Linked DNA regions of Homo sapiens: region 2 is linked to region 1. Evidence: fine-mapped expression QTL. A gene starts in region 1. The other region holds a variant in brackets. All regions are shown on one strand. Distances are between the middles of the regions.

The links.
Region 2: its variant is fine-mapped to the expression of RAB8B in whole blood (INTERVAL, PIP above 0.99).

What each region holds. Positions count from the first base shown.
Region 1 is chr15:63,183,373-63,195,772 of GRCh38, forward strand. It overlaps RAB8B (RAB8B, member RAS oncogene family), which reads left to right and starts at 6,234. Exons shown (of 8, transcript NM_016530.3): 1 at 6,234-6,376. The coding sequence starts at 6,253. LOC101928972 (a long non-coding RNA gene) reads right to left here and starts at 6,059. Exons shown (of 4, transcript XR_932355.4): 1 at 5,474-6,059; 2 at 3,618-3,663. RefSeq lists enhancers at 5,659-5,808, 8,895-9,054, 10,336-10,836 and a silencer at 5,989-6,318.
Region 2 is chr15:63,212,091-63,224,490 of GRCh38, forward strand. The region is part of intron 1 of RAB8B (RAB8B, member RAS oncogene family); the gene reads left to right. Among named protein-coding and RNA genes, the nearest start is that of RAB8B, 29 kb to the left of the region's middle. The variant C/T (reference allele first, on the strand shown) is at 5,956.

The DNA of each region.
Region 1 (12,400 bases):
ATTTACTACCATAAGAATCCCAATACCTGTTCTGATGCTGATTGTGAGTTTCAGCACATCTTGACTTTGCTATTGGATAAGAGTCCATTTTAAAGTTGGCCCCAAAAGACTTAAAAAAAAAACCAAAAAAAACAAACAAAAAACCTCAAGTTTACAAGAAGCTCTACCCAAAAAGCTCTACCCAAAATGCATAGTCCTTATTGCACGTCTTACTTTACACAAAATCCCACAAAATAGCAATGCCTAGCTTAATGAAATGAATGAATTTTGCTAATATTTTATTGTCAGCAACTTTATTACCAGAGAAAGAAATAATATAAGAGGTATTAGAATGAATTCCTTCCAAACCACCCTTTGGTGCAGGAGTCCTCAACCCCCGAGGCAGTGGGCCAGTTGTGGTCAGTGGCCTGTTAGGAACTGGGCTACACACCAGGAGGTGAGCAGCAGGTGAGCAAGCATTACCACCTGTGCTCCACCTCCTGTCAGAACTGAGGTGGCACTAGATTCTCAGAGGAGCACGAACCCCATTGTGAACTGCGTGTGTGAGGGATCTAGGTTGCCCACTCCTTATGAGAATCTAATGCCTAGGCCTGGTGCGGTGGCTCACACCTGTAATCCCAGCTCTTTGGGAGCCCAAGACAGGAGGATCACCTGAGGTCAGGAGTTTGAGACCAGCTTGGCCAACACGGTGAAACCCCATCTCTACTAAAAACAAAAACTAGCCGGGTGTGGTGGTGTGTGCCTGTAATCCCAGCTACTCAGGAGGCTGAGGCAGGAAAATCGCTTGAACCTGGGGAGGGGAGGTTCCAGGGAGCCTAGATCGTGCCACTGCACTCCAGCCTGGGTGACAGAGTGAGACTCTGTCCCAAAAAGAAAAAAAAAAAAGAATCTAATGCTTGATGTTCTGTCATTGTCTCGCATCACCCCTAGATGGGACCATCTAGTTGCAGGAAAACAAGCTCGGGGCTCCCACTGATTCTACATTATTGTAGAATGTACATAATGTAGGGGTCTTATCATCTCTCATTTTTATTTAACTTTTGCATCCAGTGGTGATATGCATAATATGTAACAATCAGTTTGGCAGGAACACTTGACCAATCAGATTGGAAGCCTGGCCAATCAGAATGGATGCCCAAATCATCAAAATCAACACCCAACCAATGAGAATGAGAATGGATGCCCCACTAATCCGAATGAAAAGCCAACCAATCAGAATGGACAACTTATCTTCACCTATCAAGATAAATGCAATGTGTACGAGCCTCACATTTACCATTGAATTTTTCATTTGTGGGCTCTCCCCTCAATTAGCTGGGAGCAAACTGAGGGCAAGGACCACATGAGACATCTTTTTGTATCCTCCAGGTGGCCTTGCTTAGCTGGTTTCAAAGTGTGAACTTAATGAATGTTTGAGTGGACATTTTTCACCTAGTGATTGCTCAGGAAATATCAGTCAGTGGAAAGGGTACAGTTTGTCCCTCTGATTAGGATAATTGTAGAATTATACACTGGAGTATCACTAAATAGCATTTTTTAATGACACACAGGTGACATGAAAAATTGGTATTTTTAAGGGCTTATCATTCAATGTGATCTTGACAAACCAGAAAAATAATACATAATTATGCTGATTTCTTAAACACAACAATGAATAGTGTACTTACTGAATGAATAACATCTAAATACAAGGTAGAGTACAAACAGAAAGATATTAGCGAGGTCCCAAACACCTAATATAGCAAATAATAAACTAAAGGTGTCCAGATGTTTTAAAATTAGCTAGACTGCTAAGATGCTAGTCAGATCTTCATTCATTGGTTCATTCAACACCTTGAGTGCCTGCTATGTATAAAACATCATGCTAAGCATGCTGGGGATGCAGCAATACATTAGCAGTCTCTTTCCTCAAAGAGCTCAACTTTTAAGGGAGCAGACAAAGAAGCACACAAACCATTCAATAACAGAGAGAGAACTTATTCAACAGCTGAGTCATCAGTCAGTGAAGATAATCACCATAAAGGACATCTTTGTAGCCCACCGGGACAGCTGTGCTCAACAGATGGCAGAGGGCCAGAACCTAAGAGTAGTTGGGCAGAAGTGTCAACCGAGATGGGTACACACTGATTCCCAGAGGCTGCTTTGCCTTTAATTTTTCAGGACCATGTGAGCTCCTGGATTCTTGTAAGATACAATTAAGGAGAGGAAAAGTCCCAATAATAACTGATTTTGGGCCGGGCGCGGTGGCTCATGCCTGTAATCCCAGCACTTTGGGAGGCCAAGGTGGGCGGATCACCTGAGGTCAGGAGTTGGAGATCAGCCTGGCCAACATGGTGAAATCCCGTCTCTATTAAAAATATAAAAATTAGCTGGGCATTGTGATGGGAACCTGTAATCCCAGCTACTCGGGAGGCTGAGGCAGGGGAAATGCTTGAATCCAGGAGGCAGAGGTTGCAGTGAGTTGAGACTGTGCCATTGCACTCCAGCCTGGGCAACAAGAGTGAAACTCCGTCTCAAAAACAAACAAAAAAAACCTGATATTGGTTTTGCCAGCCTTTGATAAGTAGGGGTCTCAGCCAAATTTAATTTCGTTAAAGCCATTAAGAAAGGTGATTTCTTGCTCTCAAGTGTCATGGAGCAACTTAAACCAGTTTAAAAATTCTTAAACTATTTTGAAAATTTGCTTAGAGAACACACAGACCCTCAAGACTATGTTTGTAGAATCTTGGGAGTGGACCTCCAAGATGAATACATTACTGTGGAGAGTGAATAATGCCTTTGGAATTGTGCAACATGGCAGTCTTGCTTGCTACCATGAGGAAAGCTAGCCTGAGGACAAAGTAAACACAGAGAAGAGCAGGAACAAGAGCATACAGGAAAATGAACTAAAGCTTTGATCAAAACCAGCCAAAAGCTCACATAGACCTCATACCAGACAGACCTACTTTCAGCATCAAAACCCATTTCCTTAGAAAGTTCACAGGGAAGAACTCGGATTGACGCAGCCTGGGTCATATGCCCACCTCTGTGGCATGTGGAGTGAAGTGACATGATTCACAGCCATCATTAGAAAGAGGAGTGGCTTTCCAAAAACAGAAAGAGTGCTGGTCTGACAAAATTCACAGAAGGTAGACTCCTTGGACATCTAGATTTCTGTAGTCAAGCTGTCATGTACAATATTAACCCTATAGAAGGCTTCAATAAACATTTGCTAAATCAAATTGAATGTGCCTGGTGCTCTGCAGTGATGTAGTATTTACAGGGTGGGCTTGGGAAACTGACAGAAAGTATTGATGTGGTTCACTCAGAGCATAGTAACTTGGAGTTTAAAACGGGGTCCACTGATAGCTCTCGGAGAAAGAAGGAACAGTGGCAACCAGCAACCTGCTACCTGAAGTAACTGTACTGCTACAAATATACTTAATGTCCAGTCCTTTGAGCAAAATGCCTTGATTCAATAGTACTCAGTTACTACCACCAGAATCCGATATCTAAATAACATTGTTGCACAAAATATGAAAATGAATAATGTGTAAGAGAAAAAAATCTGATTCTTTTTGAAGTAGTATCAATATGTCAAAATGCTTGAATGGTTCAACAGTGGTGCACAAACTTACCAGCTAGAAAGTCCCAATATTATATATACTTGGTAGCAGAGAAAAACTGGGGAAGTGAAAATAAGACAACATTATTATTTTTTAAAATTCCCATCAATTAACAAAATTCCCCTAAGAAAATTTAGGGACTTTAAAATTCCTAATGCTAGTTTCTCTTTTGAACTTAAGTTCTTTACCGTATCACTACATTTTTATTCATATAGAAAGAGAGTGATAATAGTTGCATACAGACAGTGGGACTAAACATCATTTTAATAAATATGCGGTTTTTTTTTTTCTTTTGAGACAGAGTCTTGCTCTGTCACCCTGGCTGGAGTGCAGTGGTGCAATCTCGGCTCACTGCAAGCTCCGCCTCCCGGGTTCATGCCATTCTCCTGCCTCAGCCTCCCGAGTAGCTGGGACTACAGGCGCCCGCCACCATGCCCGGCTAATTTTTTGTACTTTTAGTAGAGACGGGGTTTCACCGTGTTAGCCAGGATGGTCTCGATCTCCTGACCTCGTGATCTGCCCGCCTGGGCCTCCCAAAGTGCTGGGATTACAGGCGTGAGCCACCGCGCCTGGCCATAAATATACATTTTTAAAAAGAAATAAATTCCACTGGTCTTTGCGGAATTTTTTCCCCTTCTTTTCCAGGAATGAGGAGGAAGATATAGAACAATCCACACTGTTCAGATCATGGCTGAAGCCACGTTCAGAGGCTTGCTCAAGGACTGGCTTGGGCAAGAGGGCTCAGCCTGTGCCAGAGGGCAGAATCCTTCTTCATTAGGGGCAGACACTGTGACTTTGAACTCATTAGAGCTTTGTTCCTATCTAGTGGACTCTAGGAATGAGACATTCCGTAAGCAGCAGCAGCAGCAGCAGCAGCCCTCTGGCTACTGTATGATCAATCAGTTAATGATGACACATTTCATCTTTTACCCGCATAGAAAATGAAGGCCAATTCTAGGGCCAACTAAGTCTTCTGCCACAATGCAACTGAGAATGGATTATCAGTGGCACTGTTCCTAAAGTCACAAGGCACACAGTATGTGTCCTTAGAAAAGCCTGCTGGTTTGTTCAACTAACTGTCCACGGTTTTTCCCCCCCCCCCTTTTCTTATTCCACTAATGGTGGAGTCCACTGGTTCCCTTAATAACCTCTAGCCTTCCAGAAGGTGTTTCCTTATAGCTAAGGTAAATGTCTGGACCAGTGGTTCTCAAATACTTTGGTTTCAAGACCCCTTCATCCTCTTAAAACTTATTGAAGACTCCAAGAAGCTTTTTTTCATGTGGGTTTTACCTGTCGGTATTTGACATATTAGAAATTAAAACTTCGAAGGGAGAACAACAGATGAGAGACACAGAGCCCTGGCAGGGTGGACTCCTAGTCCCACACCTTCTTAGCCTTTTGCTTCCACATTACCTGAACCAGTCAACACCCCTTTCACAACAGCTAATCCGGTTGGGTTTCTGCCACTAGCAAATGAAAGGGGACTGAACAATACATCCACAAAACAGAGAATTAGCCTAAGACAATAAATAATAAAGGATTAACTTGAGTATAACAGAATGCTGTTTCCTCCCTATATTCGTCATCAATTAAGTGAGAGCCTACTGAAGAGTAATGAATATTACCATCACTGCTAACAGTGCCTTATGGGTTTCAAAGAACTTTCACATTTAGTATTTAAGTTTCACTGGAACCCTATGAAGTATCTTGTTTCATATCCATTTTACAGATGAGAAAACTGAAATGTCCAGTGCCTGTGTGACTTGTCACAGCGGTTTTGCAGCAGAGCCAAGACTAAATTCAAATCTTACTCTCTAAATTCCCGTGGCCCGCCTCACAGGATGCTTGCAGTTTCATGGGGCACAGACCTGTAGCACAAGACTTCCCAGATTTAAAAATCCATCCTCCTGCGAGGAGAGGGGAGCGATCAGCGTAGCAGATTCTCTAAATACTCATTGTATTTGGCTCTGGTCTGTGTGGCGTGAAGAAGGGGGCACGAGTGAGGTTCGAGTTAGCATGGTAACCATTCTTTCTCAGCTCTGTGACTGAGGGGCTGCGGGAGGGGGTTATAGTGGTGCTGGGCATGGCCTCGGGGAGAAGCTGGATAATGCCCTCTGCAGATAACCCGTAGGCTGCGCCACAGCAGCGCCAAGGAAAGAAAGCATCTCTGCTCCAGGTCTCGGCGGAAGAGATGCGGGAACTACGGGGCTCTGATTCTGAGGTCCTGGATTTGGAAGGCGTCTGCACACAAAGAAATAACAAAGTTAAGTTCCCGCGGCTCGACCAGCAGAGTACGAAACGGGGCCTCCCTTCCCAGCTCGGGTGGAAACGCCTCCACCCTGTCACCCCGCCCATAGCAGGTCTTTTATCCGCTGGAGCCGCCTGGACAGTCCTCGCGGGGCACGCCCGAGGCTCCCCGGAGGAACTACAAGTCCCATGAAGTCCCGGGGCGCGGGCGGTGATGACGAAGCCCTCGCCGATTGGCCGCACGGGGCGGGGCGCGCAGGCCTTCTCCGAGAGGAGGGGCGGGGCGTGGGGCGGGGCGAGCAGCGGCGGATTGGCGGGCACGCCCCCTCGCCCGCGGCCCCCTCCCCGCCTCTCTCCACCGCCTCCTCTGGCTCCCCGGTCAGAGGGCCGGAGCGAGAAGATGGCGAAGACGTACGATTATCTCTTCAAGCTCCTGCTGATCGGCGACTCGGGGGTAGGCAAGACCTGCCTCCTGTTCCGCTTCTCAGAGGACGCCTTCAACACCACCTTCATCTCCACCATCGGTGAGGGAGGGGCCGCGGCCCGGGACCGGGTAGAGAATTGGGGGGCGGGTACTAGGGGACGGGGAAAGGGCGGGGGGCGCTTGGGAGCCCGGGAGAGGAGACCCCGGGGACTGCAAGGTGGCGGGGGCACTGAGAGGGGCGAGGGCGTGAGGGAGAGGGGCGAGGGCGTGAGGGAGAGAGGCGAGCGGGAACGTGAGGCTAAGGGCGAAGGGGGAACTTGGGGGCAAAGGAACGGGAAGGGGAACAGAGGAACAAGGACTAGGGGTATTGGGGGAACGAGAGGGTTCGGAGACTGACAGGGAGGGGTCTTTGAGGGACAAAATGTGTTGGGGGGAAGACTCAGGAAATCTCATGTAGAGAGAAGGGGATAGTGGACGTGCCAATGATTAAAAGACAGGAGAGGAAGGAAATGTGAAGGGGGAAATGAGGGATGGGGGCAATGAGAGGGATGTGAAGTAAAGGGACAGAGGACACAAGGGACAGAGAGGTGAGAACCAGGCAACTGGAAGGGAATTCAGGGGAATGAGCGGTCAGGAGGTGAGGAAGAAGGGGACGGCTGGCCACAGGAGGTCTGGACTGAGATGTCGTAGGAGGGGACAGAAGAAAATTGTAGGTGGAAGAAGAGTTCAAGGGATCAGAGGGCAGAATGAGGATACTTGATGGAGAAAGTAAAGGGATCTGGGTGTGAGACAGAAAGGAAAAGAGGAAGCAACATCATAGTAAAGGGAGGTTGAGCAGAGAAGACAGAGGAGATGGAAAAGAGAGGAAATGGAAAGTAGTGGGGCGCAAGACTTGCTATAGTAACTGATTACCATTTTCTCTTCACTTCCTTTGGATCAAGTGCAGGAGAAAGCAAAATGTGACTAATGATGGAATAATGTCTATAGAGCGTTAATTTGTTCTGTGAGTGTTAATGGATGTTAAGGGAATTGGTGACTTTTGGAAATGATGTGGTCAGGAAAATATGGTTCACCTCTTTACTACCATCTCCTGAGAAGCAAGACTTCTCAGTATTTTAAATCCTTCGGTTTGAATGTTTAACAGCTTCTCAGCCAAGGAAATGAACTTACATTCTACCTGCCTCCCTGTATATTTTGCTTTGGTTCTAATTATTGTTAAGTGAATCACAACATGTGATATACCTCTCAGTTACTTCCAATTGAATCAAGAGTTTTTCTGATCCTGGCTGGGAGCTGTCCTTTCTACTTTTGTACTGGAAGACACTGTGTTCAGGTAATAAGATCTCTTAACTTATCATAAACTGAAGACCAAGTCAAAGCTGGTTTTAAGCTGTTTTAGAAGTGACCACCTTAACATCATTTCTCCTGTTAAATAGTTGCAGGTTAATTAAGTACCTTAAGAATACCTCAGCTTTTGGTTGTGTTGGTGATGTTTCTGGCCTCTAATAGTGGCTTATTTAGTCATCTTTCGTATGGTTCTTACAGCATATTTCACCATGAATTTCTGGGTTGGGAAATAATAGAGAGCTAGTGCTTTGGTAATACGTGTGTTTAAATATTTGTGTATTTTTAAGGATAATTTATCTTTTTTTAAAAAAAGAGTATTTGGTATAGAACACTCTTTAAGTATTAGTAAAGGCTATGGTTTGTTTGCTCATTCTGGATTCTTTCATATAGATTGAATGGTCTAAAATCTCCTGGGTGTTATGATGTCTGGGCTTAGGGAAGTTTGAATTGCAAGTTCTTGGCAGTCAGTCTTGAGTGGGACTTTTTCTTTTCTGAAAAAGCAGATTTTAAATGTCATCTCTCAAGTATATTCCTAAGATTTGGTGGTAGCTGCTGGTACAGCAACTAAAGGGTGTTAATTTTTGACATTTGTATTAATTTCAAAGCCTCAAATAACAATTTTTCATTGTTGAATGCATACTGCAGTACAGATGGTAAAGGATAATTTCTAACAAGTTGAGTGGGTGTCCTTTTGTCCATTCTGTATTTGAGCCTCCCAGAAGTATCTCCTGCCTTGAAAGTAAGTGAATCTCGCTGATGCTGTTTTTGTTAAGCTTCTTGGACGACTTGCTTGTTTGTAATAGTTTTATTCGTTTTCTCTTTTTCCCTTAATTTTTGTCCCATGTTTCCTGTAAGGGTATCTGGTTCCTTTTAAAATAGTAGCTTTTAAAAATTACTTTTCATTTTGAAGGGTTCAAGTCTATCAGTGGATTTCAAAAAATGATGGAAATGAGGTTCTTTGGAGGGTGACAGCTATGAAGGCATGAAAACCAGTGTCCTGAAACAGATTAGAATAGGAAGTGAACATGAAAAGGAGGTGAATCTCATGTGACATCTTGGTCTTTATATTTTCTGTGAGGTGGATGTGGTAAAAAGAGGTGTGAGCTGTGTCTTCAGTTGACGTGGAGGAGGGGAAATCCCATACCTCTTATTTAGCCCCAGAGCTCCAACAGGAAGTGGTAGCACACTGCCTTCAAACTGCAGAATTTATATACACACTGCCTTCAAACTGCAGAATTATATAGAAACCTAATGCTCTGCAGTCAAAATTAAGCTGGGAAAATAAGGTGAATGTTAGCACCATTCTGGTTCCACAGACTCTTCACTGATTACAAGTATAGATTTTGAGTGTTGACATCTCTAGCAGCCACTCCCTCCATGCCCCTCACCTCATTCCCAGGTGATCTGAAGTTACTGAGGTGACAGCCCATCTCCTCCCTAGTCATGAAGTACCTAAGTGTGTAAGTTCCTGTGCTTTTCTGACTGGGTTTTGATGAAGTCTGCCATAGCATTGCTGACAGCACTTGATAAGCTCTGTGTCATACGGAAAAGATGTATTTCTCAACGCCTGGGGTTTGTGTGTATGTGTTTTGGTAGATATGTATGGGTGTCTGTTTCTTCCCATGAAGATACATTTTAAGTCTTAATTTTGCTTTGTCAAAGTTTTAGTAGTTTTAAAAATGGTAATCTGCCATCTTTCGACACTGTTTTGATAGGGGTTCTGTCATCACGAAGGGAAGGAGACAGTCATTTTGATTCCAGATACAGTTGTCTCAGAGATACTTTCTTCTTCTCACTTCTCTAAGGTCTTGCTATTGGCTGGGTGTGGTGGCTCAAGCTTGTAACCCCAGCACTTTGGGAGACTGAGGTGGGAGGATCACTTGAAGCCAGGAGTTCAAGACCAGCCTGGGAAACATAGCGAGACTCTGTCTCTACAAAAATACAAAAATTCACCAAACGGTGTATGCCTGTATTCCTAGCTACTTGGGAGGCTGAGGCAGGAAGATCACTTGAGGCCAGGAGTTTGACACCAGTCTGGGCAACATAGCAAGACCCCATCTCTACAAAAAGTAAATTAAAAAATTAGCCAGGTGGAGTGGTGCACACCTTTAGTACTAGCTACTTGGGAGGCTGAGGCAGGAGGATAACGTGAGCCCAGGAGTTCAAGGTTATTACAGTAAGCTATGATTGCACCACTGCTCTCCAGCCTGGGAGACAGAGCAAGATTCTGTCTCTAAAAAATAGATAAGTAAATAAATAAGGTTTTGCTATCTTCTCTGATATCTCAGGTCCCTTCATTTCCTTTTTGCTCTTTGAGGGGTGTTGGAAGGTAGATTTTCTTGTATCTGACTTTTTGAAGATCTTCTAGTATATCTGTCAATAGTTTAGTTAACTGTGAGGAAAGGATGTTTTATCCATTTGAAATTATTGGTCAAGTGCCTAGGACCAACTCGCCTTTCACTCCAAATGTTTGAAAATTGAATTTTTTTTATTGGCTCTAAAAACCCTTATGTAATCATAATTAACATTTAATTGGCCAAGCGCAGTGGCTCATGCCTGTAATCTCAGCACTTTGGGAGGCCAAGGCAGGCGGATCACAAGGTCAGGAGATTGAGACCATCCCGGCTAATACGGTGAACCCCGTCTCTACTAAAAAATACAAAAAATTAGCCGGGGGTGGCAGCGGGCACCTGTAGTCCCAGCTACTTGGGAGGCTGAGGCAGGAGAATGGCGTGAACCTGGGAGGCCGAGCTTGCAGTGAGCTGAGATCGCGCCACTGCATTCCAGCCTGGGCGACAGAGCAAGACTCCATCTCAAAAAACAACAACAACAACAACATCAAAAACATTTAATTAAGTGCCTGTAAAATGTAACATAAAGACAACTAGGAATGATGATACAGTTAGCTATAGATTATATTTCCTCTGGGAAATGGATGCATTTTAATATTGATATGAGGGCATACCGACGTCTTGAAATGGCTCTGGACAGAAAAAGGTGCTGGTTTAACAAAAAGAGATAACCCAGCCCTGTCCTCTTGACAGGACAATCAGAGCTTCTTCCCTTTGCCGTCTCTCTGCTGCCCTGCCCCCTTCTTCCTGTTAGGTATTTCCTGAGTGGTTTCACTATTTAGTATAGTCATAGTTTAACAGCAGAAAGAGTCTTAGATATTATCTACTTTATTCCTGTCCCAATTTTATAAATAAAAAAAAAATGAAGGTTTAATTGACACCCTCAAAATTACACAGCTGATTATAGCAGATCCTGTAGTGAAACCCCAGATCCAAGTCTATGTCACTTTTCACAACTGAGTTGCTACTATTCCTAATCAGTATGATTATCCCCATTAATTCAAGTCATCACCTTTTCCAGGGAAGAATTAGAGTTTGCACATACGCCTTTATGTGAGGAAAGTTAAGACATTTCTGTTTTGATTAGCCGAGTCTGTTCAGGTGAATAGCAAATGTTACTACAATGACTCTGAGTTCTGTTGGAGTTTATACTGGAATAACTCAGCGCATAGCTGTCCTTTGCCCTTTCTGTGTCTATAGTTTCACATTAGGAGATCAAAGTGTATCCTATCATTAAAATTTCTTCCATACGTAAAGTAACTAATGAAATCATATTAATGGGGGTATGTTAGTAATTGTTGTAGCTTAGTCTCATCAGAGTACTTTTAGACATTTTATTCTGTAACACTGGATATTTTTCTTGGGTTCACTTTCCTTAAAATCAGGGGTTAGCACACTATAGCCTATGGGCCAAGTGTGACCTGCAGCCTGTTTTTGTGTAGCTCACAGGCTAAGAATGGTTTTTATATTTTAAAGGTTATTAAAAAATAAAGCAATATGCAAAAGAGACCATATGTATCCCACAAAGCTTAAAAATATTTACTAACTGGTTCTTTGTAGAAAGTTTGCTGACCGTTACTTAAAATTAAAAACTATTTTTGGTTGGTAGCATTTCAAAGCTTTTATCAAGACTTATTGACTGAAAAACAAACTTTGTCATATTTACATTTTTATCCAAGATGACATCAACATTTGGCTGAGCATAATCCAGATACGTAGAGCAAGTTGATTTTCATTTTCATAGTTGTTTTCCTTGGTTTCAACTTCTCAAACAAAAATATGCAAGGAACATGCAAGTTCATATTGAACATTTTGTACATAAAGCCTTATTTTAATGTCATTGTGTTCTTTCAAAGCTGCCAGTAGATTTCCCATCTAAGCAATAGCATTGATAACGACTCTGGTTCAGAAAAAGTAGAATTTAATACTTGATCATAAAGGATTAAACTCATCTCTTCAATCAATGTTCTAGTGAATGAAAAAAGCCTTCCTACATATAAAGGATGGGCATGGGGAAACTGAGTCTTGGGTACAAATATGGATCTGTCTGAAGAATGTGTACTTTAATGAAGAGCTTCACCAGCTGTTCTGCAGGCAGCAAGTCAGGGAGGAGGTTCTCTTGGCAACAGCAGCGAGATTGTTTGGATCCACTGAGAAAAGCTGGAGGGAAATAGGTTTAGATATTGTTTTAGAGGTAAATAAGTCTAGTCTTTGAGGACAAAGAAAAATTTAGCAGTATATTTTTGAATTGAATCCAATAACTGAATCTGAAAAGAACCATAGATCCTGAAGTGGATGAGCAGGGAGCTGCTGGCCTCAGGCCAGCTCGAGTCTAGGTCTGCCTGTCTTCACCCAGCTCTGGACATCAGCTCTCCTGTGGGTGTTAGAACTGTTACTTGAGAATATTTTGCAGGAATAGAGTTTTC
Region 2 (12,400 bases), 29 kb after region 1:
CCAAAGCGCTGGGATTACAGTCATGAGCCACAGTGCCTGGCCTAAAAGCCCCATCTTCCTACACAGTGCGTTGTAGTCTTTCCTCCTGAATTGATGTAGAGGCATCCTTGATGTATAACAAGCAGAGCATGCTGAACTAGTTCGCAGCAAAAAACAAACAACGAAAACTTGATATCCAGGTTGTTCTTGGATAGGTCACCATGTTTATCATTTTTAAACATCCGGGGTTGTGAGATAAAGTTGTTAAGGGAGGGATTGCACCAGCACATTTTTCTGTTTCAGTTCATGTTCATCTGACTCATATTTATTCTAGTCTAACCTCATTTTGCGTGAAAATTTTTGTACTAGAAAATGTCACTTTCAATTAGGGGAGGGGAAATTCTGATTGGGGATCAGAAGAGTCAAGATGTATTAGTGATAATTTGGCATCACTTTTGATTCAAGGTAAAAACACAGAATCCCTAAAAATGTAGTAAAGTAAAAAGTGATTCATATAACTAGATAGGGGAAAGGAAATGTCACTGCTGAGCTTTACTGTGGGAAGAGGGGGAGGTGAAGGAAATTATTACAAAATTTTTGTACGTGATGAGGAGACAGCCTCTGGACTTCCCCAAATATTTCCGTATTCCCTAAAACAGCTCTAGTGAATTGCTTCATGATTGGTGTATGAATAGAAAGACACTAGAACTCTTAAACTTGATCTTGAAAGGCCCGTCTTTGTATATAATCATCCACAGATGTCCGTATGTGATTATATATTCCCATAGTGAGGCAATGATAAATGTAAATGAGAACCATGATATAATTTTGCCTTGCTTGCATGCACATTTTCAGAATAGAATTAAAAGCACATGCCACTGTCAGTAGTTAACTATGAGGTTTGTCTTAGTTTTTTATAAGGCTTTGGCAGAGGCCTAAAGCATGTTTTAGTGTCTAAGTCTTCCCTCCCTCCCTCTCTTCCTCCCTTCTTTCCTCCCTTCCTTCCCTCTTTGGAATCAAAAAGGAACTCTCTAGGTTCTGACTATTCTCTTTTCAGAACTAGGGACAATTTCAGCTTGTACACAGATTAATTTTCATTTTTTGGCTTCTCTGCTGGTACCTGAAATTGTAACTAAGTTATTACTAGATAATTCCTTTCTGACTTCTTCCTTCAAATAAAATCTGATAAGGACAAATGTCTTCTAGGTACTATTTCAGGTGGATATGTTTGGAGGGGGACGTGGGGCAAAGCAGAGGATAGGCTAGGGGTGCTGTTATAATGTAACTTAGGTCAGTTGATTGGTGCTTAGTAAATCATGGTTTTCTGTATAGTGCCAAATGCTCAGAAAATCTGTACTGGATAAAGAATTTCTTGTTCAAGTCTATTTAGTTACTGTACTTATGCCTAAAACTGGAATGTGCTCCTCTTTTAAATTCAGTAGGCTGTGCATTTATGACTATAGATGATACCACTTTCATTTTTAAAATAATGATAAAAGCTTAAGTTGTAAATTTAAGTTGTAATATGGACACTTAAAAAAAAACCCAAAACAAAACAATCTTCCTTCTGGTTATGGGGAATTCCTACATGAGTTCTTTCCAACTGCTTTTGTTTATATGAGTGTTGAAACTTAAAATGAGTAAATTCTGTCTTCCAAATAATTTTCTACATTTTCCATTTATTTCCATCGCTTATATCTGCTCTCAAGAACAAAACAAAAGTGGTTTCCAGGCCAGGCGCGGTGGCTCACGCCTGTAATCCCAGCACTTTGGGAGGCAGAGGCGGGCAGATCACGAGGTCAGGAGTTCGAGACCAGCCTGGGCAACATGGTGAAACCCCTACTCTAATAAAAATACAAAAATTAGCTGGGCGTTGTGGCATGTGTCTGTAATCCCAGCTACTCGGGAGGCTGAGGCAGGAGAATTGCTTGAACCTGGGAGGTGGAGGTTGTGGTGAGCCAAGATTGTGCCACTGCACTCCAGCCTGGGTGACAGAGCGAGACTCTGTCTCAGGGGAAAAAAAAAAGTGGTTTCGTTTGCTATACCAACGTGTAAAATGTAGAAATTTCCAGTGTTTAAAAATTCTGATTGGCTATTCCTTTCAAGGTATTACAGTGTGGGAGGTAAAGGATCTAATGTAGTTATCTAGGAGTTTAAGTTTGAAAAAGAATTCAACAGTGTTGAATTCCTTGGAAATGGGTACGCTCAGTTTCTTTCTTTTTTTTTTTTTTTTTTTTTTTGAGACGGAGTCTCACTCTGCTACCCATGCTGGAGTGCAGGGCCATGATCTCGGCTCACTGTAGCCTCCGCCTCCCAGGTTGCAGCGATTCTCCTGCCTCAGCCTCCCGGGTAGCTGGGATTACAGGCAGGTGCCACCGTGCCTGGCTAATTTTTGTATTTTCAGTAGAGACGGGGTTTCACCATGTTGGCCAGGCTGGTCTTGAACTCTTGTCCTCAGGTGATCTGCCCACCACGGCTTCTCACTTGATCTTAGCCAAAAGGCCGAGAAGCCATCCACCACGGCTTCTCAAAGTGCTAGGATTACAGGCGTGAGCCACCATGCCCAACCGTTTCTAACACTTCACAAAGCTTTTCCATCTGACAGTGGATTTGACCAGAGTGGGTTCTCTTGCTTCTAATTTCAGCAGCAGTTCATTTCTCTTTTTTAATGTAACCCTTGAGCTGTGGGGGTTGAAACCTGCTTCTGAGAATTCATGTTTCTTATCTTTTCCTCCTAAAACTGCATATAGTGGTGTTCTCCCCACCAAAAGAAACAATAAAAATAATTTCCCATGGAATACACATATAGTATTTAATTTTATTTTTTCTTGTTTACTAAGGTCTTTAAAATTGAGTAGGGCATCTACAGCTCTCTGTCCTCAGACCTTCCACCTCATTCTTATGGAGTCAGGAGTTTGCAATCTTCACAGGTTTCTGATCTCCTTTCCTATCCCAGACACAAGAGATACCTGCTGTTGCTATTTGTGACCAAATACCATATTTGTCAATAACTACCAACAGGGGCTCTGGGAATCTGGAAGCTGAAGACATCACTCTTGATAATTCAGTCCAAGGGCCCTTTGTCCCTCATACCCATCCTTTCTCTACTGGGATTTAGACTTTTGCCTTTCCTGCATCTGATCATAGTCTCATCGTGAAATGTGAGTACTTTCATATTAGATCTTATTCATTGATGCATTGATTTTATTTTAAAATTCATTTGTATACTTCCATACTTCTGATTAAAGTGTTCCAAAAATTGTCTTGATATTTTTTACTTAACTGCTGATTTTTCAAAGATATTAAATGAAAAACTGCCTTCTGGTCAATAACAAGTTTGTAAAGAGTAGGAAGTAATTTTTATACTTATATAAAAATTTAACCAGTTAACGCTGTATCTTTGTCATACTGTATTTCTTTTTAGTCTTCGAAGGAACTGAGAATCCCTATGATAGACTTCGCTACTTGTAAATGGACTATCAAAAGGAAAGTTCTTTCTAGTTTACTTTGAAAAATGCCTGAGGTCCTCATAATTTTCATTTTTATTTTAGTCAGTTTTAGAATTGTCAACTCAGTCTTATTTTCACAACCCTTTACTTTTTACTGAAAGTTGAAGTGGGAATTGGCAGAAGATTCAGAAGAAAGAGCAACTATATTATATTTGCCCTTAAAATTTTACCCTATAGACCAGGCATAGCTGCTCATGCCTATAATTCCAGCACTTTGGGAGGCTGAGGCAGGATGATTGTTTGACCCCAGGTGTTTGAGACCAGCCTGGGCAACATGGCGAGACCCCATCTCCATAAAAAATTTTAAAAATTAGCCAGGTGTGGTGACATGCACCTGTGGTCCCAGCTACTCTGGCGGCTGAGGTGGGAGGATCACTTGAACCCAGGAGGTTGAGGCTGCAGTGAGCCTTGTTTGTGTCACTGCACTCCAGTCTGGGCAGCAGAATGAGACCGTCTCAAAAAAAAGAAAAATTAAAGAAAATTACCCTATTCAAGAGTCCATAATTAGCATCTTAGCACCATATGATGTGTTTTTCTTCTCTATAATTTTTCATATATATTATCTACTGTGATTTCTCCTCTCTTTTAACATCCATATAAATGTTTCAATCCAACTTTTACTTTAATTAATTAATTAATTAATTAATTAATTATTATTTTTTTTTTTGGAGACAGAGTCTTGCTCTGTCTCCCCCACTGGAGTGCAGCGGCACAATCTTGGCTCACTGCAACCTCCGCCTCCTGGTTTCATGCAATTCTCCTGCCTCAACCTCCCAAGTATCTGGGACTACAGGCGCACACCATAACACCCGGCTAATTTTTTGTATTTTAGTAGAACTGGGGTTTCACCATGTTGTCCAGGTTGGTCTTGAACTCGTGAGCTCGAGCAGTCCACCTGCCTTGGCCTGCCAAAGTGCTGGGATTACAGGCGTGAGCCACTGTGCCTGGCCTCAATCCAACTTTTAAATGTTCAGTACCACTGATTTAAAAGTTCTGACTTGTGGCTTGTCTCGGTGGCTCACGCCTGTAATCCCAGCACTTTGGGAGGCCAAGGCGGGCAGATCACAAGGCAGGAGTTCGAGACCAGCCTGGCCAATATGATGAAACCCTGTCTCTACTAAAAATACAAAAATTAGTCGGGCATGGTGGTGTGCACCTGTAGTCCCAGCTCTTTGGGAGGCTGAGACAGGAGAATCGCTTGAACCTGGGAGGCAGAGGTTGCAGTGAGCTGAGATCATGCCGCTGCACTCCAGCCTGGGTGACAGAGTGAGACTCTGTCTCAAAAAAAAAAAAAAAAAAGTTTTGACTTGTAAAGTATTCCTCCTTTTTTAGTCATAAAGTGGTATCAGTGCAGTAGTCTCTGTTGCTAACACACTGGGGGACTTTTGCTAGAGAGAAGTTGGCCTCTGACTAGATGCACATGGGTTGATTACATCTATGTTTCTCTTAGTTCCACTGAATCTAATTTTCTTTCATTTCATTTCCTTATATCCTCTGAGCTCATGGTAGTTTCCTTCATCTTTAGAAAGAATAATCAGATATCTCATTAGATAAATCATATATGATTAATGTATGATTAGTCAGATAAAAGGAATTCAAATGTACTTCGAAGAGACTAATGAAAAGATGGTACATACGAGGGCCTAATGGTTTGAGGAATAAGCGTAATGGAGTTAGGATTGTTCTATATAATTACTTTCTTTTTGTGTAAAAGATGCAAAAATAAACGTCCTTTACATTTAAAAATATTGAATGGAATATGGGGTTTTTCCATTGGAACTTTCTAATCATTTCTAGTATTTATTCCAGCAGCAATTTAGACATTTAAGGAAAATGTTTTTCACCATGTGCCATGTTTTTGGGTCAGTGAGAAAGCCTTAACCAAGACGATTGTTGGGTGGTACTGTGTATAATAACTCCAGATCCTTGACCAAGTTTGGAGAGTCACTTATGGCCATTTGAAACCAAATGAAGGATCAAAGGACTAATTATTTTGAATACCTCTGAGTGTTTTCCCCAAGCTTGAGAAGAGTTTCATTCAGCTATAAAATGCTCATTGTGCAAATGAGTGGTTTCCATGCTGTATAATTAAAGCATTGCCTTTAATAATATTTTATTACCTTTAGCTTGTCTTTTTAATTTGAGGAAAATCTAAACAATTTAAAGTAAAACGTGATAAAGACAGTTTTTCGGGAGAGAGAAGGGTAGATCGCTATGTTTATTCCACTTAGTATCTATATCAAATATTTGTATCAAAAGCAGACTCTCACTTTAAAATTATTCTTCTAGTGGCAAGATTCTTTTCCCTAGATTGAGAGTACAGAGCTCACATAGTAATAACTGCTGTTAAAATAGACACTTAGAACTATAGAGCTAAAGCTTAGGTTCCAAACTAAGCGAAGCTGCCATTTTCTGAAATAATGTCTTTCTTATTTAAAAGGACCAGTTCCTTTTTGCCTTTTTTCCC[C/T]TTCCTCACTTCCTTCCTATTGCTCCATGTATGTTGTACATGTGGTTATCTGTTCTTTTTTTTTTATGCTTCTACCCTTATGTTGGCAAAAGAAATGCACCAATGGGAGGTGAAGGTTTAAAATATAACAGTTGAGTTCATTATCCCAGTTTTATCACTTTCTACAAGTATAAGCAAGTTACTTATCTGGACCTCTGTTTCCTCTTACGTTAAATGGGGATTAAAGCCCCCTTGCAGACTTGTTATGAGAATAGTGATAAGGAATATTCAGTACCTATCACAGTGCCTGGCCTTAAGTGGGTCCTTAAGAAGTGCTAGCTATTTTTATTAATGATAGCCTATCCCATTATAGCTGTCAGCATCATTATCTGCTGAGCAGGGATCTCAGGAGAGTATCTTGAAGAATATCGTTGGACTCCACTATACGGGGTTATCTAATCTGAAGCTCATTTTGTTTGGCTGCATTTTGTTCTAAGAGTTTGTGCTTTAGACATTCTGGATTGTTTTAAGCTGGAGTCATTTATTTTGCAGGCAATTATTTCCTCATTTAAAGGGCATAGTCCCACTTCATTCATTTGAAATGATGTCAGTTACCACACTACTGAACTCTTCTGGCCTTTTGTGATGGGCGTTTCTCTCTTTTGTTTCTTGGCCTTAGGCTGATAAATCAAAGTATCTCAGGTGATACAGGAATTCCCGGCAATGTCATATTCAAAATATTGGGCATGTTGCTCAAGCAGTATTTCCATTATTGGAATTCTCCTTTTTTCCTTTAAATCTTAGCCTCCCTGCTTGTTAATATGTTACTTTACTCACAAAATAGGAAGAAAAAAAAACACTTTAGCCTCTTAAGTTTAACAAATATTTTAGGGGCAGCTATATACAAGACCCTGAAGTTGTCATTTTTCTCTCTCTCACTAAAAAGTGAAGCTAAAATGATCTTTTCTTCCAGCAGTGGATTTTTTTTTTTTTTTTTTTTTTTTTTTTTAGAAGGAAAGAGATCACCAGGTGCCGGGAGACTGAGGTGGGTAGATCACGAGGTCAGAAGGTCGAGGCCATCCTGGCCAACACGGTGAAACCCCGTCTCCACTAAAATACAAAAATTTAGCCGGGGTGGTGGCACGCGCCTGTAGTCCCAGTTACTCAGGAGGCTGAGGCAGGGGAATTGCTTGAACTTGGGAGGCAGAGATTGTAGTGAGCTGAGATCACGCCACTGCACTCCAGCCTGGCAAAGGAGCGAGACTCCCATCAAAAAAAAAAAAAAAGAAAGAAAGAGAGAAAGAGATCGAGAGAGAGAATGTGACCTTTACTTGACTTCCAGGATGTTCTTTAAGCCAATGTTTTCAATATGGGTTGCAACCCATTACTGGGTCATGAAGTCAATTTACTGTGTCCAGACCAACTTTTTTTTTTTTTTTTAAATGGAGGGAAAGAGAACAGACAAGAACATGACAACAGATAAGAGAACACAGAGTCCACTGCACATGTAAGAGTAACAAGGAGTAAGGGTCAAGTGCTATTTCATAAAACTTTTGTTTCAGTTATGTAAGTATGTATATATGTGGAATGTGTTGTTATATAAAAATTATTTCTTACCAGTGGGTTAAAAAAGGCAGAAAGCCACTGCTGTGGGGCAGTTTGCCACTGAAGACTTGTCTCATTTTTTAGAAAAACCAATTCTATGGAGGCTGTATTTGATCAGACAGATCCCTTTTTTTCCATGAAAGAAAACTGGGTCTTTTACTATTGAGCCTATATTGATGGAAGGCTTCCACTGCTGGCTTAACTGGCTGTGTTTTTGAGAGGGTCTCTTGGGTAATGAGTCTATTATCTCTCTTCTTTTTTGGTTTTCTGCTTTCTACTCTTTCTACATGGACTCTGGAAGCCATTCTAGTTGTTGGAACAATGGTAGAAGTTCCCACACAACGTAGAGACATCCACAACATTTGGTTTTGTGATTGTTGTCCAAGTGTTAAGAAAACTATGGTTTCTGAAGAAAGTAAGACTTTCTAACCAATATGAAATATCCAATTATTTCCCCCCACTTCAGTGTTAGCCCTTATATCAGGCCTTTTAATATAATTACAAAATTGCTATTTATTTCAGTGTGTTGAATTTTTAAAAATCACCCGAACCCCTAAACCTGTCTAAGTTAACGTGGTTAGAATTGAGACAATGGTAGCAGAACCTTTCGTTCTATTTCATTTCTCTAGAAGAGACTGCATTGTTGCCTTTTCTTCATTCTAAAATGAAGACATCTACTTTATGTATGCTTAGTACTGTTTTGTCATTTGTACTTAATAATTTAAGAAAATTATTCTAGAATGTTCTTTAGGCCGGTGTTTTTAATATGGATTGCAACCCTTTATTGGGTCATGAAGTCAATTTACTGTGTACAGACCAACTTTTTTTTTTTAAATGGAGGGAAAGACAGTAGGACAAGAACATGAGAATAGAAGAGAGTACAGTGTTCACTGCACATATAAGAGTAAGGAGGAGTAAGAGTCAAGTGGTATTTTTTGAAACTTTCAGTGGTTTCATATTTTAGTGTTTTTTGTGTTTCACTTTTTTGTTTTATCACTTAAAGTTACCCAAATATGTAACTTAATTTGCCAGCCATTAAGATTCATTCCAGTAGGATCAATCTAGACATATGTAAACCTGATTGTATTCCAAAGTAATTGATCAGTGTCAAGAAATGTTTATTGAGTGCCTGTTACTTGCTTGGCAAACAGGAGGGAGGTTCCAAATGAAGTACTGTAAGTAAAAGATGAGGCTCCTGCTTTTTTTTAAAAAGGGTTTATCTTTCATTTATTCCTTTAAACATTTATCAGGCACTTATTTAATCAGCCGTATACAGTGCTAGATCCTCTGCTCAAGTGTAATTGGGAAGGTAAAACTTAAATGAAACAACAAAAATAATTAATTGCCACATGCATAATGATATGCATTCTAAATTCTGTAGGAGTTTAGGGTAGAGAGTGAGCAGAGTTGGCTGGAATAACTGGAGGACAGAGGAGGTAGAGTTTCTGAATCTTGAGGCACTTTCAGGATTCAGATGGAAAGGATGGAGAATGTTCCAGACAATGGGGAGATCTTGAAAAATGCTTAGAGGCAGGGAATACCACAGAGCATGAAAGAGGCATTTCTGAGGTTTTATGCTGAGGAATTGTGAAAAATAATGTTGGATATGTTGGATGGGGCCATATATTTTAAGATGGGTAATTGTAGAGTTACATAAACTAAAAAGGTATCCAGTATCCTGTGGTGCATACAGTCTACTTTGGGAGAAGGGAGGGATTATAAATAACTAATGAAGCTATACTGTATGTATTATGATGGAAGCTAGTACTGTGCTAGAAGTATTATAAGCAAAAAGCTTGAATGGCCATGTCAGTGGTTACCTTTGAGCTATATTAGTACTGCTCTGGCTTAGGGCTTGGCAACATCGCTGACTCAGTGACAAACTTCCTTTTTGGAAGTCCTGGCTCCTCACTTGCCAGCATATGACACTCCCAGTTCACCAGGTCATCCTGTCCCGAACTGCCCAGTTAATTGTGAAGCTATAAGACAGTCCTGGCCAGGGCTCATCTCCACCGCTAGCTGGGGATCCCACCACATAGCTAGACAGGTTCCTGAATGGACTTCTCCTTCAGGACCAGAGCATGGTTGGGGGTCTGTACATGTGCTTGCCTTCCACCCTGGGCTCACGAATTAATAGTGGAAATGTCTTCAAAGCAATTATTAAAAGTAATTATTGCTATGATTTCACTTTTGATTCTCCATTTATTTCACTTCTGTCTGCTTATTTATTTACCTACTTGATGTTTGTGGAGGCATGTATCAGTCAGCTTTTGCAGTTATACAACCCCAAAATCTCAGTTGCTTGTAACAGTCACATATTTGATTATTGCAGCTGAGGATTAACTGTAGCCCTTGGTCAGTTTTCTCTAATATTCATTCTTCCCTGTTTCTCCACCCAGGCTTCTGGGTCAGCTAGCTTCAGACTGGGTTCAGCTGATTAGAGAAACTGGCAGGAAATAATGCAAGAGGAGAAAGGGAGAAACCAAGATATTTCTCTTTTTCCCTTCTTGCCTTGGGTGGCTTCTCTAGCAGAGACTGTTTCTCTCTGGCTTTAGTTCTCACTGGACAGGACCACCATGGTTCTTGTCCAGTGACTCTATGTCTTCAGTTCCTATAACACCATCTCCTCCTTTTGTCTGTCCAGCTAAGGGGTGGTAGTGGCTCCCTGCTGTTGTCATCTCTTCCTTTTGTCTCTCCGGCTTAGGGGTGGTAGTGGCTCCCTGCTGTTGTTAAACCTTTTACCATCCCCAATATGGTTTGCAGCAATTTAATGCCTTATATAGCCAGTTCCCTCTATTAAATTCCTTCTGTTGTAAATACAGTCATGCACCACATAACAACATTATAGTGAATGATGGATCATATATAGGATGGTTGTCCCATAAGTTGATGATGATGATGATAATGATGATTTTTATTATTATTTGAGACGGAGTCTCACTCTGTTGCTCAGGCTGGAGTGCAGTGGCACAATCTTGGCTCACTGCAACCTCCGCTTCCTGGGCGCAAGCAATTCTCCTGCCTCAGCCTCCCGAGTAACTGGGACTACAGGCATATGCCACGACACCCGACTAATTTTTTTTGTATTTTTAGTAGAGATGGGGTTTCACCATGTTGGTCAGGCTGGTCTCGAACTCCTGACCTCAAGTGATCCTCCCGCTTTGGCCTCCCAAAGTGCTGGGATTACAGGTGTGAGCCACCATGCCCGGCCCACATAAGATTATAATGGAGCTAAAACATTTCTGTTGCCTAGTGACATCATAACTATTGTAATGTTGTACTACAGTTACCTTATTTTTTAAATATAATTTTGGTGTAGCTTAGGTGTATAGTGTTTATAGAGTCTACAGTAGTGTACAGTAATGTCCTAGGCCTTCACATTCACTCATCACTCTCTCATTGATTCCTTCAGAGCAACTTCCAGTCCTGTAAGCGCCTTTCATGGTAAGTACCCTATATAGGTATACCATTTTTATTTTACTTATTTTTTGTTATTTTTTGAGACGGAATCTTGCTCTGTCACCCAGGCTGGTATGCAGTGGCATGATTTTGGCTCACTGCAACCTCCACCTCCCGGGTTCAAGCGATTCTCCTGCCTCAGCCTCCCAAGTAGCTGGTACTACAGGCACCTGCCACCATGCCCGGCTAATTTTTGTATTTTTAGTAGAGACGGGGTTTCACTGTATTGGCCAGGCTGGTCTCGAACTCCTGACCTCAGGTGATCCACTTGCCTCGGCCCCAAAGTGCTGGGATTACAGGCATGAGCCACTGGGCCCAGCCACCATTTTTTATCTTTTATACCATGTTTTTACTGTACTTTTTCTATGTTTAGATATGTTTAAACACACAAATACTTACCATTGTGTTACAGTTGCATACAGTATTTGGTACAGTAGCATACTATATAAGTTTGTAGCCTAGGAGCAATAAACAGGCTATACTACGTAGACTAGGTGTGTAGTACATGCTATGATGTTTGCACAAAGACGAAACCACCTAAAAATGCATTTTCCAGAACGTCTGGTTGTTAAGTGACACATGACTATACTTGAAGACACACGACTGTACTTGTACTGGTTGTTAAGTGACACGTGACTGTACTTGGTTGTTAAGTGACACATGACTGTATTTGATTTCTTTTTCCTGACTAGACCCTGACTGATACACTGTTCCAAAAAAGGAGTTTTTCTTTTGTCTTTATATTGTTTTCTTCTATAGTGCGGCCTCACATAGAGGAATAAAAACAACCCATTTTATTATCCCACAAAATGTCTGCTAATGAAGCAGTGTGATGTAGTGGACAGAGTATTGGATTTGGAATCACTGTCACTTATAGCACTGTGGTGTTGGGTAAGTCACTCATTCTCTCCGTGTGGAGATACTTATGATTCCTGTTATACCTACATCTTCAGGGTTGTCTGTGATGATCAAAACAAGGAAATGCTTATAAACTATCAAGCTTTATTCAAGTGATGCACGGAGCCTCAATGATGTTGTAGAACAGTCTGCCAGCTGGCCATATTTTATTTTATTTATTTTTATCATTTGTAGTTGTTTCCAACATAGTTTCTTTCTCATTATAAACTCAGAATTGGAAGATGCAACTATAATTAGATAGAGAAAAGTTATAGAAAATATTCATCCCATGTTGGAAGATATTTATGTATATTTAAAAGGTATTCTTCAAATGGCCAAGTACATTTGACCACTGATAATACCCCAGGTATCCAAACTTTTTTAGTTCTTCCTAGTCTTACTGTAGAACCAAGATCATGTTTCCTGGAGCAGCATGAGTGTCACAGTCCCTGTCACATAGGCTAACATGGGATGGATTTCAATCATATGAGTGGAAAATTACCTA